Regions from separate parts of the Homo sapiens genome. Here region 1 is linked to region 2. The links come from fine-mapping of genetic effects on gene expression. A gene starts in region 2. The other region holds a variant in brackets. All regions are shown on one strand. Distances are from middle to middle.

Region 1 (5,382 bases), 580 kb before region 2:
ACAATGTTCTGGAACATTAGCATGTGTTGGGTAAAGTTGATAACAGTATACTAAAACTCAGATAGCTGCTTCAGTACTGAAGTCAGAACAGTTCTCCCTGGAAAGACAACCAAACTTTTCTCTTATTGTAGCACTACATTGTAATTGCTTATTTAGCTATTTTGTAAGCTACTTTTATTCTGTTACTTCTCTGGTATTCCCAGGGTCCAGGACATTATCATGAATTCAAGAAATGTTTGATGCATAAATAAAGGAATGAAAATATATAAGGAATATTATGTTTACTAAAGGCATAATAGTTTGGCTCTTCCTGACTATCCTGAGTTATGATCAACTCTGAAAAAGGGAGTAATTTTTCAAGTCTATTAAACATAGCAGGGTGGAGGTGGAGGTAAGAAGAGTTGGGGAAAGGTATATTATGAAACATAGAAATACTATTTACTAAATACATATTAACAAATCTTAGCATAATTTAATTTTACTCCAGGCTGCCCCCCATCCCTTTCCCCTGCCCTCTTTTTTCTTGCCTATAGAATGTAAGGAAGGGAACACACTTCTTTGTTAAGGAAAACTGAGTAAGGTTGTCATTTCATTCTGTTATGACTGGAGTTTTTCCTTCTCATCATTCATCAGGTCAATTTAAGTTTTATACATCTAAACTGTGTAACACTGCATATAAAAATAAGTCCATGTTTAAGACAAAGTGGAAAAGTACCAAACACTTTTAAAAAATGAATTGAAGAAAACCTTCTCTTTGACAACTTCGGTTTTCATTTGGGGAGGTGGTATGAAATCATCTAGGTACATTTTTGTCTATTGGGATGAAGAATGCTATCCACTAAGAATATTGATTTAAAAATCAAATGCCTGGACTGGAGGGGAAGGAAAGGACAAAAGACTGCATGCTATGTGCTATTTTACATCAAGTCACCTCCTTCCTGCTATACATGAGCTTCAGTTGATGCCTTGGTTTGGAGCCTTTGAACTTTCTTAGTTATCACTGATTTTAAATGGTAGTCACTGGACCGGGGATACAATTAAAATAATGTAACATGCCATATGAACATTTTAAACCAAGAAACTGATTTTTCATTTTTGAGTGGAGAACTCAGTCCTTAAAAAAATTTGTGGTCCGAAGAAACAGCATTACTAATGAGGACTCTCCCTTTTACAACTGGGGGTTCCTGCCCACATCTTCCAAATACCTCCTTTGCCAGGGCTTGCCTAGGTCAGATGTGAAGTAAATAGAACTGATGAATGATTTTTTTGACTCTCTTGTCATGTAGTTTTCTGTCATCTTAATATGCTGAAGGGGAGCACATTCAGAAGTGATCTCATTTGAGAAGGACTACTTTCAAGTTCTATTTTAGGCCACATAAATTTTCAAAAAATAAAATTCTGAATTAAATCTTAAACCTTTGGGAAGGCTTCAGATCACATATTTGGTGGAATGTACTATATTACCTAAATAATAAACATTTTATTTGGATACATCTTTGGGATGCTTGTTAAAAAATTATAGATTAAAATTTTAGTGTTAGAATTACCATTTGAGGATAGAGGAATAAAAAGTTCTCTATTCCTTCAAACTTATATGGACTCCATTTTTCTAGTGCTTTACTGACATCATGAAGAGTCTTTCTTCTCAAGGTGGCAACATTTCCTTGCCTTGTACTTTTATTCTGAATGATGTGGTTTTTCGCCCTTACATTTGCCATATAGAATTTATGAGGTTTATGTGTTTTTGCTCTACAGTTTCTTCTATGATCTTACATTTTATCTCCCTTAAGAGTGTTTAGAAAAACAATAATAGGAAAAAATATTTTGGTGCAATAATAAGTAAAAATGGGATTCCTGGAGGTGGATTGGAATTATTTAGTCTTCTGTGTTTTTTCTAGACATCCATAAATTTTCTTTTTCTTTTTATTCTTCTATTGGACAGAAATTTCACTTGAAGGTAGATTATTAGTCTCTACCAAAGACCGTCTTAAATCACAATGCTTTAAGAACTTTTGAATTAAGCTTCTTAGAGGAACACATAATATATTCACCTTACCTTGTTTTAGTTGAAACAAATTCTTTTTTAAATTTAGGTCTTCTTTAAAAAAAGAAACAGAACACACTTCATTTTTATATAGAATAAACTTTGTTTTTATTATACACATGGATGAAAAATAAAAGTTTTTATGTACATACGACATATAGTGCAAATGAAAAGCTTTTAAATACCATGGATAGACATGTTGTTGGAAACAAAAGGAGATGAATGATGGGGGTTAGGATGGTCGTCCTGGAACTGC[A/C]GGAGGGGGTCGCCTAGTAAAAACAAAACAAAACAAAACAAAATAACAAAAAGAAAGACACAGATGCAGAGGAAGAAAACAATGTTTAAATTATAAAATAAACCCAAATAATAGCATGCAAAAATAGCTCACAAAAGTCAAATTCAAATCACACACAAAAACATGCAGACATGCAAAGGAAATGAAGGGACATCACATAGCTAAGTTAGCAGTTCCCAGGACTTTTCCTGGCTACTAGCAATGTTCTAGGTATGAGCCATTTGAGCTCACTCAAAAAGCTTCTTATTTTGCACCATGGAATGATAAATCCATGCACTCTTATTCAGGAGAACTGGGACTAGTCCCCGAGCCAAATACCTTTATAACTTGTATATTTGATTTTCAACCCTGATTTTGTGAAACTCAGTTATTTCCAAAGATTTCAATGAATGTTGTGAAATCTCCATAGGGGGAGAGGGAGTTGATGTAGCCAATGGCAGGTTAAATTTTTTTTAAGTGAGGTAAATTAGAAGGTGTCAAGAGATCAAATGAGCAATGTAATCACAATGCAGAGAATGCCAGAGGTTGATCTCAGAAAAAAAGGATTTGTAAATAAGAATTTGCTCCAGGTGAGTAGTCCTGGTGTGTAATAGCCTGGATTCAGGCCTAGGGAAACTAGGAGGCAAGGTCTGGTCCATGGCAACCCCAGGATTTTCTAGGATTTCCCTCTGTCTAAGAGCTAGGTATAACTGTATTTCTGATTTGTTCTGAAGTGGGCCCAAGGTAAATGAAATCTGGTCTGCTGGATCTTTCTCCATTTCCCTAGGCTGGCTTGCATTTCATCAGACCTATGGATAATGAAATGAGGGTCCAAGTTGTGCTTCATTTGACATCAGCCTTTCTTGTGTTCAGCAGGGAGATGATTTGCAGCTAGAGAAAATACAGTAAACCCTACATTGCAATGAACAGCTTTGTAAGTAGGAAAACAGCAGGCCAAATAAAGCTTTCCCTCTGGTTTTTGGCAGAAGTCTACACTTTAATTTCCCCTTTCTAACCAAACCATTAATGAACTCAACATTATAGGAAGCTGTAGAATGGTGAGATTATCTCAAGACCCTACTCTCTTTGACTTCTTATCCAGGTGTTCAACAACGCTCACTTCCATCTTATTCTTGTTACACATCTTATTCTTGCTTGTGAGTGGAGCAATGAAGTCTATAAAAAAAAAACAAAAACAAAAACAGAAAAACTTCTTTTTCATTTTCTATGAGATGTTAGTGGAGCCAAACTGACTGGTGTATTTCTGGGCAGTGGTAAAAAATGATCTTAGCTTCCCCAAAGTCCAAAATCAATTTTCCTTCAGTCCAGTTTAAGCTGACTACACTAAAGAGGCCTCCCATCCATTTAAATGATGGAGAACTTGTTATTGGTACCTAACCTTTCAACTTCAGGGCCGGGGCAGGGGCTAGGGGGTCTGCAAGGCTTTAGCTTTAGAGATCCAGGTAATGGGTATCCCTGGTGTTTTCATGAAGAAAGTGTAATTAAATTTCTGTCGAGCTCAATGAGATTTATCACCTGCCCAGAAAACAGAAACTATTTTCGAGTTCTGAAGGGGCTTTAGAACACTTTAATGACCTCAGCAGGGTGGGGAGGTGGGCCATTAAACTGAACAGCAAGTCCACAGTGCTGAAGCGACATTCTGTTAGCATATGCCAAAACACTTTCCTGTTTGAGCTAGTTTGGTGTTCTGATCCAGAAACAGGATCAGAAACTTTATGTCTTGGAATATATTCCACTGACAGCTAGAATGTTTGCTTGAAACATCAGGGTGACATTTATATCCTCAGACAGCTTTTTCTTTTCATCTTCACTTTACTGTATCTACCCTTCCTGTCATTGCTGAAAAAGCATTGTTGTTGATGATACCATTTACTGGGTCAAAATTAGTTCTTTTAAGGATATGGGCAGTTGGGGTTTTTGCTCTTTCTTTTGCATAATTTTTATATGACTTACACAGTGCCGAAATGCTTAAAGGCAAGTGCTGCAAATATTTGGGCTTTTTACATGTAGAGCTACAAAGGTACCTCATACAATTGCCACTCCCATATGAAAGTTGCAGTACTAAATTGGAATACTGAGTTGCTAACAAATTCTTAAGCTCACCATCCTAGTATTCAACATATAAGCAAATTTACCTAATCAAGACTATAATTTCAGGTTATATTTTCTTAAGCATTCTGAAAAATAACTTCAAAGCAGCATGTTTTGGCCAAATCAGGTAAAGGAGATTGGAAAGCTGTATCTGGAACATGGGTGTAATTTATATATAAAAGACTCAATTATTAACAAGAATGATGAATTACCCTCATTCTTTTGGCTCTATGTCAACGCTGAAATTTGGTCTTATGGTGACATTCCTCTGGCCAGATCTCTGAGGAGGTCTTCCTTATAGCTTTTTTCTTTTCTGTTAAAATCTCACAAAAAAGGCCAGGTGCAGTGGCTCATGCCTGTAATCCCAGCACTTTGGGAAGCTGAGGTGGGCGGATCACTTGAGGTCAGGAGTTCGAGACCAGCCTGGCCAATGTGGTGAAATGCCGTCTCTACTAAAAATGCAAAAATTAGCCAGGCATGGTGGCACACGCCTGTAATCCTAGCTACTGGGGAGGCTGAGGCATAAGAATCACTTGAACTTGGGAGGTGGAAGTTGCAGTGAGCCAAGATCACACCACTGCATTGCAGCCTGGGCAACAGAGTGAGACTCTGTCTCAAAAAAAAAAAAAAAAAAAAAAACTCACAAAAAATGCTCTGTTTGCTTTCTTTGCCCATCCTTTAGGTAAGTTAATAACCCAGAGCAGTGAGTGAGCCTGAAGGCTTGGGAAAGGGAGGAAAGAAAGGCAATAGGAATAGTCTTCAACATTCTTCTCTGATGATTAATCTTAGATCAACCTGGATGCCTTCCTTCACAATAATCTCATGGAGGTAATTTAAAGAATCCCTTTTTTGGAGAGTCAGAGAGAAAAGGTAAGGTATAAAATTATCTGAATCCTTCATAAGTCTCATTAAGACTCAATGCATGTATGTCTCTAAACTGCTTTTGTGCTAC
Region 2 (5,382 bases):
GCCTCTCATTGCCAGCATATATCTCATCCTGCACCACCAAAAGAACAATCTGGTTACTCATGCTATATCACATTAATATGCAAGTTCATCACTTCAGCAAGAAAATCACAAACAAGTGGTTCATTCATGACTCATTTTATTCATAACAATCTCAAACCTGTCACCCAAAAATCAGCTTTTACAGCAACCGCTAAATGAAGTAAACATATTCACATCCGAATTCATTCATTGGTGTCCAAAAAAACTCAATATAAACAAACTGAGAGAAGATACAGTTAGTCCACTAAATGAGGATTGTTGAGAAAATGCATCATTATTTTGTAGAGAAGAAGCTTGAGTCAAGAGCAAACACAATGAATTTACACAAGTGATGACCCTTGGTTTTTATGGCTGCATTCAATAACTGCACATTAGATCGAGTCTTAAAATGAAAACTGTTTCGTGTAAAAGAGGAAAGTTGCATCCTTAGGAAAGAAACTGTTTTTATTGCAAAATTCCTGGATAATGACAAGAAAATGCTAAGATGTTACAGTAGAAAATGGATACAATTTTTTCCACCTAGGCTGAATAACTTATCAAAATAGAAAACTCCATTTTCCCTAAGGTTGGTTTATAATTAGAAATTAGATTCCTCAATAATTCAATGACCGAAATCTTTATTAAAGTCAAATGACCTTCCTAATTAAATTTTCTCCTTAATATGTAAGCTCTGCTAGGCAGGTGTTATCTCTACATATAATTAAGACTTTACATATGAATTAAATGACCTTTTTCCTCTATGGTCATCCTTTTCTTTGATTTGGCGTTCTAACAGTCAATTAGTGGTAAAACTTTTTAAAGTACAACAAATTACTAATGCATTCTGGTACGTGCTCTGATTTTTATACTTGTCCCTATTTTTTATTCCATCTTGAAAAATATTCAAACTTAAATATTTTACTCTTCTACATTTCTTTTTTCAAATTATTCCAAAAGAACATAGCTAGTGTGGGGAGATGTGTACAATTTTATTATAACATTAGGAAGAATGTTAGAATTTCAAAACCTAGAATGTAGAATTGTGGTATGTGCATACAACTGACATTAAGTTCAAAAGCTCTGACCACAAACAATGCACTTGCATACAATATAGGCTCATCCAAGTAAATATATGGGAGATGCATAAAAATATGGTAATTTCATTTGAAATACTTACAGTTTTAATCTTTAAGTATTTGTTTAAAAAACAAAAATAGTTAAATAACTCTTAAGGTGTCATGACAAAAATGCCCTGGCTTTGGAAAGCCAAAAATATGTTACCAAAACTCACTCTTTGGATGCCACTTTATATCTCGTAAATTTCATTGGCAACAAATCAAAGAAAGTAACTGTTATATGTTTGAAATCCATCACTTCACCAAAAGTCTAAGATGACGTAGGCAAAATGCTTTACCTTCACTTTGTTCATTAATCAAAAAAAATATAAAAATGAGGTGTAGTGATTAAGTGAATTACTCAAGGATACAAGCCAATTGTCAGCAATTTTACTTTGTTAGGCTTCTTATCTTTCTAGTTCATACAGGAAAAAAAATATCATCTGAGAGATGGAATATCATTTGAGAGAAAGGAATATGTACTTTATGAACACTAACATTTCCAAAGGAAATGTGGGAATATTCAGCTCTAAATTCTACACATCACCAAGCACTAACAAAAAAAGAAAAAAGGAACAGAAACAGGAACCTTCTGCATCCCAAGTCACGAATGAGCCAAATAAAAAGAATAAAGTACAATCTCGCCAGCATTTTTTCTTGGATACTGTACATTTCTACCTGGTTTTCTATTACTAGGAAACAGATTTCAGTTTTCATAATGCTTTTAAATGGGCTTTTCTTAGCAAATGTCTGCACTCTTCAGGCAAGGCCATTAAGGTAACTTAATCCCTCATGAATTGCTCAGTGGAAGAAATGCTGATTCCTAATTCGAAAATTAATTCCTTAGCTGTTTCTGTATTAAGAGTCATGAGGAAAACCACAGCTACAATTTAGATTCAGAATGTTGTCTTGAAGGCTAGCAAGACAAATAGGAGCTTAGAGAACGGAAGATGATGCTGGGGGAGGGGGCGCAGAGAGAGTGCGAGAAAGATGCTGGTCAGTTCCGAGATGATGCAGGAATGACATGGCACCTGGACAACATAAGTCCACGTCCACCCCCTGCCAAGTCTGTGCCTCGGGCTCTCTCACAATTGCCTGAAGCTGTGAATAGGTGCACACGCAAACACACCACCTTTTATTCTTCGACTCTCCGGGAGGAGAATGGTGGGGAAGCGTCTCTGGATAAAGCTTCACCACAACAAACGACGTCTTTCTCCTCGCACCCCGCCTCCCCAGCTAGAGGCAGGCAACAGTAGACAGCTGAGAGGAACGAGAACCCTGGCGAGAAGGAAAGCATCTCCACCTAAGGGAGGGGGCTCGGGGGATAAAGCCCCACAGCCTCACAGGGAGCCTCACGGAGGGCGACAGGAAAAGGAGGGGGGTGTTGAGCTGGGAAAACAGGAGAGGGGCACTGGGAAGCTTTCGGCGCGCTACGCAGGGAGGCTGCCCGGGGCTGGCGCGCACCGAGGGGGTGGGGGTCGAGCCCGGGGCGGACCCCTCCCCCGACTCCCCGACTGGAGGACAGGGAGGAAATGGCTTTGTATCGCACGATGAAAGGCAGGCAGGAGGGCCACCAGGCGGGGGGTGGCAGGGGACGGAGGATGCCCAGAGCTGGAGGACCCCGCCCGCCCCACGGACACCGCCACTCTGCCCCCCATTCCACTCTGCCCCCCATTCCACCGCAGCGCCTGGTCCATCCACCCTCTGGCTCCCGCTGCCCGTCCACGTTCCAACGGCCCGCAGCGGGGTCGCCCCACTGCCGCATCCTTACTCCGCGCCCTGCGCGCTTACCTGCCCACGAAGTTCTCGAGCACCGAGCTCTTGCCGGCGCTCTGGCCGCCCACCACGGCGATCTGCGGCAGCTCCAGCAGGCAGCTCTGTCCCAGCGCCGAAAACGCGTCCTGCAGACGGTTCACCAGCGGGATCAGCTCCTCCATCTCCCGGTTCCCCATCTTGCCCGAGGGGCCGGCGACCAGCTGGTCCCTGCTCGCCTCTACGACCTGACAGGGAGTAGGGGCCGCGCTGCCCTGGCTGCTGCTGCTGCGCCGGGCTCAGCCAGCCAGGTCCTGGCGCAGACGTCGGAGCCCGCCGCCAGCCCGCCGCTTGGCTCTGACAGCTAACGACCCGCAGCGCGCCTGCGCGGGCGGGCAGGGGCGTGGCCTATCTCCGCGACGCCCCGCCCCCGCCCCGCGGCTGCCCCGCCCCGGGCTTCCCATCGGACCACCAGGCCAGGCGCGCACGCACTGCAGCCCAGCTGCGGCCAGATGCCACGGCCTCTGCGTTCTGTGGCCAAGGCTCAGAGGCCAAGTTACAGCGCCGGGTCAGGAAATGGCATGAAATCAGCAGCAGCGGCAGCGTTGTTCTCTTTCAGCGGCTACCAAGCCAAAGCCCAGTGGAAAGCACTATCGCCGCTAACACCACCACACGATCACCAGCAACAGCAGCACCGCCGCCGCCACCACCGGGGCACCGCTGCCAGACTACACTTCCCGAAAGGAAATCTCCTCTGTCACGCCCTTCTCCAGAATCCGCGATGACTCCTCCCAGGGTGGCAGGCCTGTTGGAGTCTAAATTCTTCAATGTGACATCCATCTAAGGCCCTGAGTGGTCTGACCTTACTTAATTCTTCATCTGTAATGACTCGTCCTCCCCAGCCCCGCATAAGCACAGGTAGAGTCTGTAGGGTTTACCGCCCCGATACACCCCTTTAATCACTCTGGCCTGTGAGACTCCTCATGCCATTTGCCCTCCCGGTCTATCTCCTTCTACCGGATCTATCCAGAACCAGGTACCCTGGACGCATTCTGTGAAATTTAGCACATTGAGAAGTGACTGTGTGTGGGGTCCTGTGCCTGATGATCGGGACACAAAGATAAATGGCCATGCTTCTCTTAGCCTCCACAGACGGTTCCTTTTTAGTCTGCTCCTCAAATACTGATGCTTCGCAGGGTTTCATATATGGGCATTTTCTTGTCTAATGTTTGTCCTCTGCCTGAGGACTTTCCCATAGCTTTAACTCTGAATCAAGGCTGGCGACTACAGAAATTTACATTGCTAGACCCTGTCTCTCTTCTGCAACTTAGACTGTACTCCAAGAGGAGCCCAGAATACTACCTGAGTGTCCTACAAGTACTACAGACTCAATTTATTCAAAACTGAAGTCATCTTTTGTAATCTCAGCATTTAATGTACAGTTCCTTCTAACTCTAAAAAGACATATTAAAATGTTCATAATGTCAAAAAACCTGAAAACAACCCAAATGTCTATCAACAGGTGAATGAATAAACAAACGTGGTATATATATATAGTGAAATAATCTCTGCCACAAAAAAGACTTTTGATATAGCAACAATCTCAGATACATTATGTAGAATGAAAAAGGCCAAAGACCATATTGGTTTGATTTCATGTATGTGAAGTTCTACAACCAGCAAAGCTATTCTATGGTAATAGAAATCGGAACTGTGGTTGTCTTTGAGGAGTGGAGATTGACTGTAGGAGGCATGAGGAAACTTTCTGGAGTGATGGAAATGTCCCATGTCTTGACTGGGATGTGGGCATACATTTGTCAAAACTCCTCAAACTAAACTTTTAAGTGATGTGCATTTTACTGTACATTACATCTCAACTTTTTTTTAAAGCAGCAGAAAAAGACAAATAAAACTGAATGCATCTCCACTGAAGTGGATCTCTATTAGAATGTCTGCCCAGGAAACCTTTTCTAAGAAACACTCCATCCAATGCATGGTTGTAGCCAGAGCAGTCATGAAGATAGAAAGGCATGAAGAAAAACTGAGCCCTGGCCATAGCTGTGTGCACCAGATTGGGCACCTGACTTGAGCTTTACCAATCAAAGCCTTTTCCCAGGAGTATGCAATTGAGAGAGAGATTGGCCTTTGTCTGAGTGACTGAACTATAAGTGAGGAATAACATTGGCAACTATGGTTAGTAAGATTTCACCAGTAGAAGGGAAGTGCTCATCTTCAGAGAAAGAGAAAAGTGAAAAGACACAAGGAGAGGAGCACAGGGAAAGAAGAGGGAAGATCCGGATAGTACCTGTATCCTCAATCTTGTTCATGTCTGATGTCCAACTGTAATCCTGTCCTCAGTTCCTTGTACAACCTCCCCGCCAATAAACTTATAATAAATTCTCCTCTTTGCCTAACCTAATTCAACTCATATTTCTTTTACTTGCAGTCAAAGAATCCTATAAATACATTCTCACACTAGAGATAGTGTGCTCCCTAT

Evidence for each region. PIP is the estimated chance that this variant, and not a neighbour inherited with it, causes the effect.
Region 1: its variant is fine-mapped to the expression of DNM3 in whole blood (INTERVAL, PIP above 0.99).

The regions. Positions count from the first base shown.
Region 1 is chr1:172,415,212-172,420,593 of GRCh38, reverse strand. All of the region lies in intron 1 of LOC102724528 (a long non-coding RNA gene), which reads left to right. It also overlaps a transcript of DNM3 not described here. Among named protein-coding and RNA genes, the nearest start is that of C1orf105, 2.8 kb to the left of the region's middle. The variant A/C (reference allele first, on the strand shown) is at 2,301.
Region 2 is chr1:171,839,360-171,844,741 of GRCh38, reverse strand. DNM3 (dynamin 3) reads right to left here and starts at 3,244. Exons shown (of 21, transcript NM_015569.5): 1 at 2,925-3,244. The coding sequence starts at 3,085. RefSeq lists an enhancer at 2,820-2,999 and a silencer at 3,200-3,429.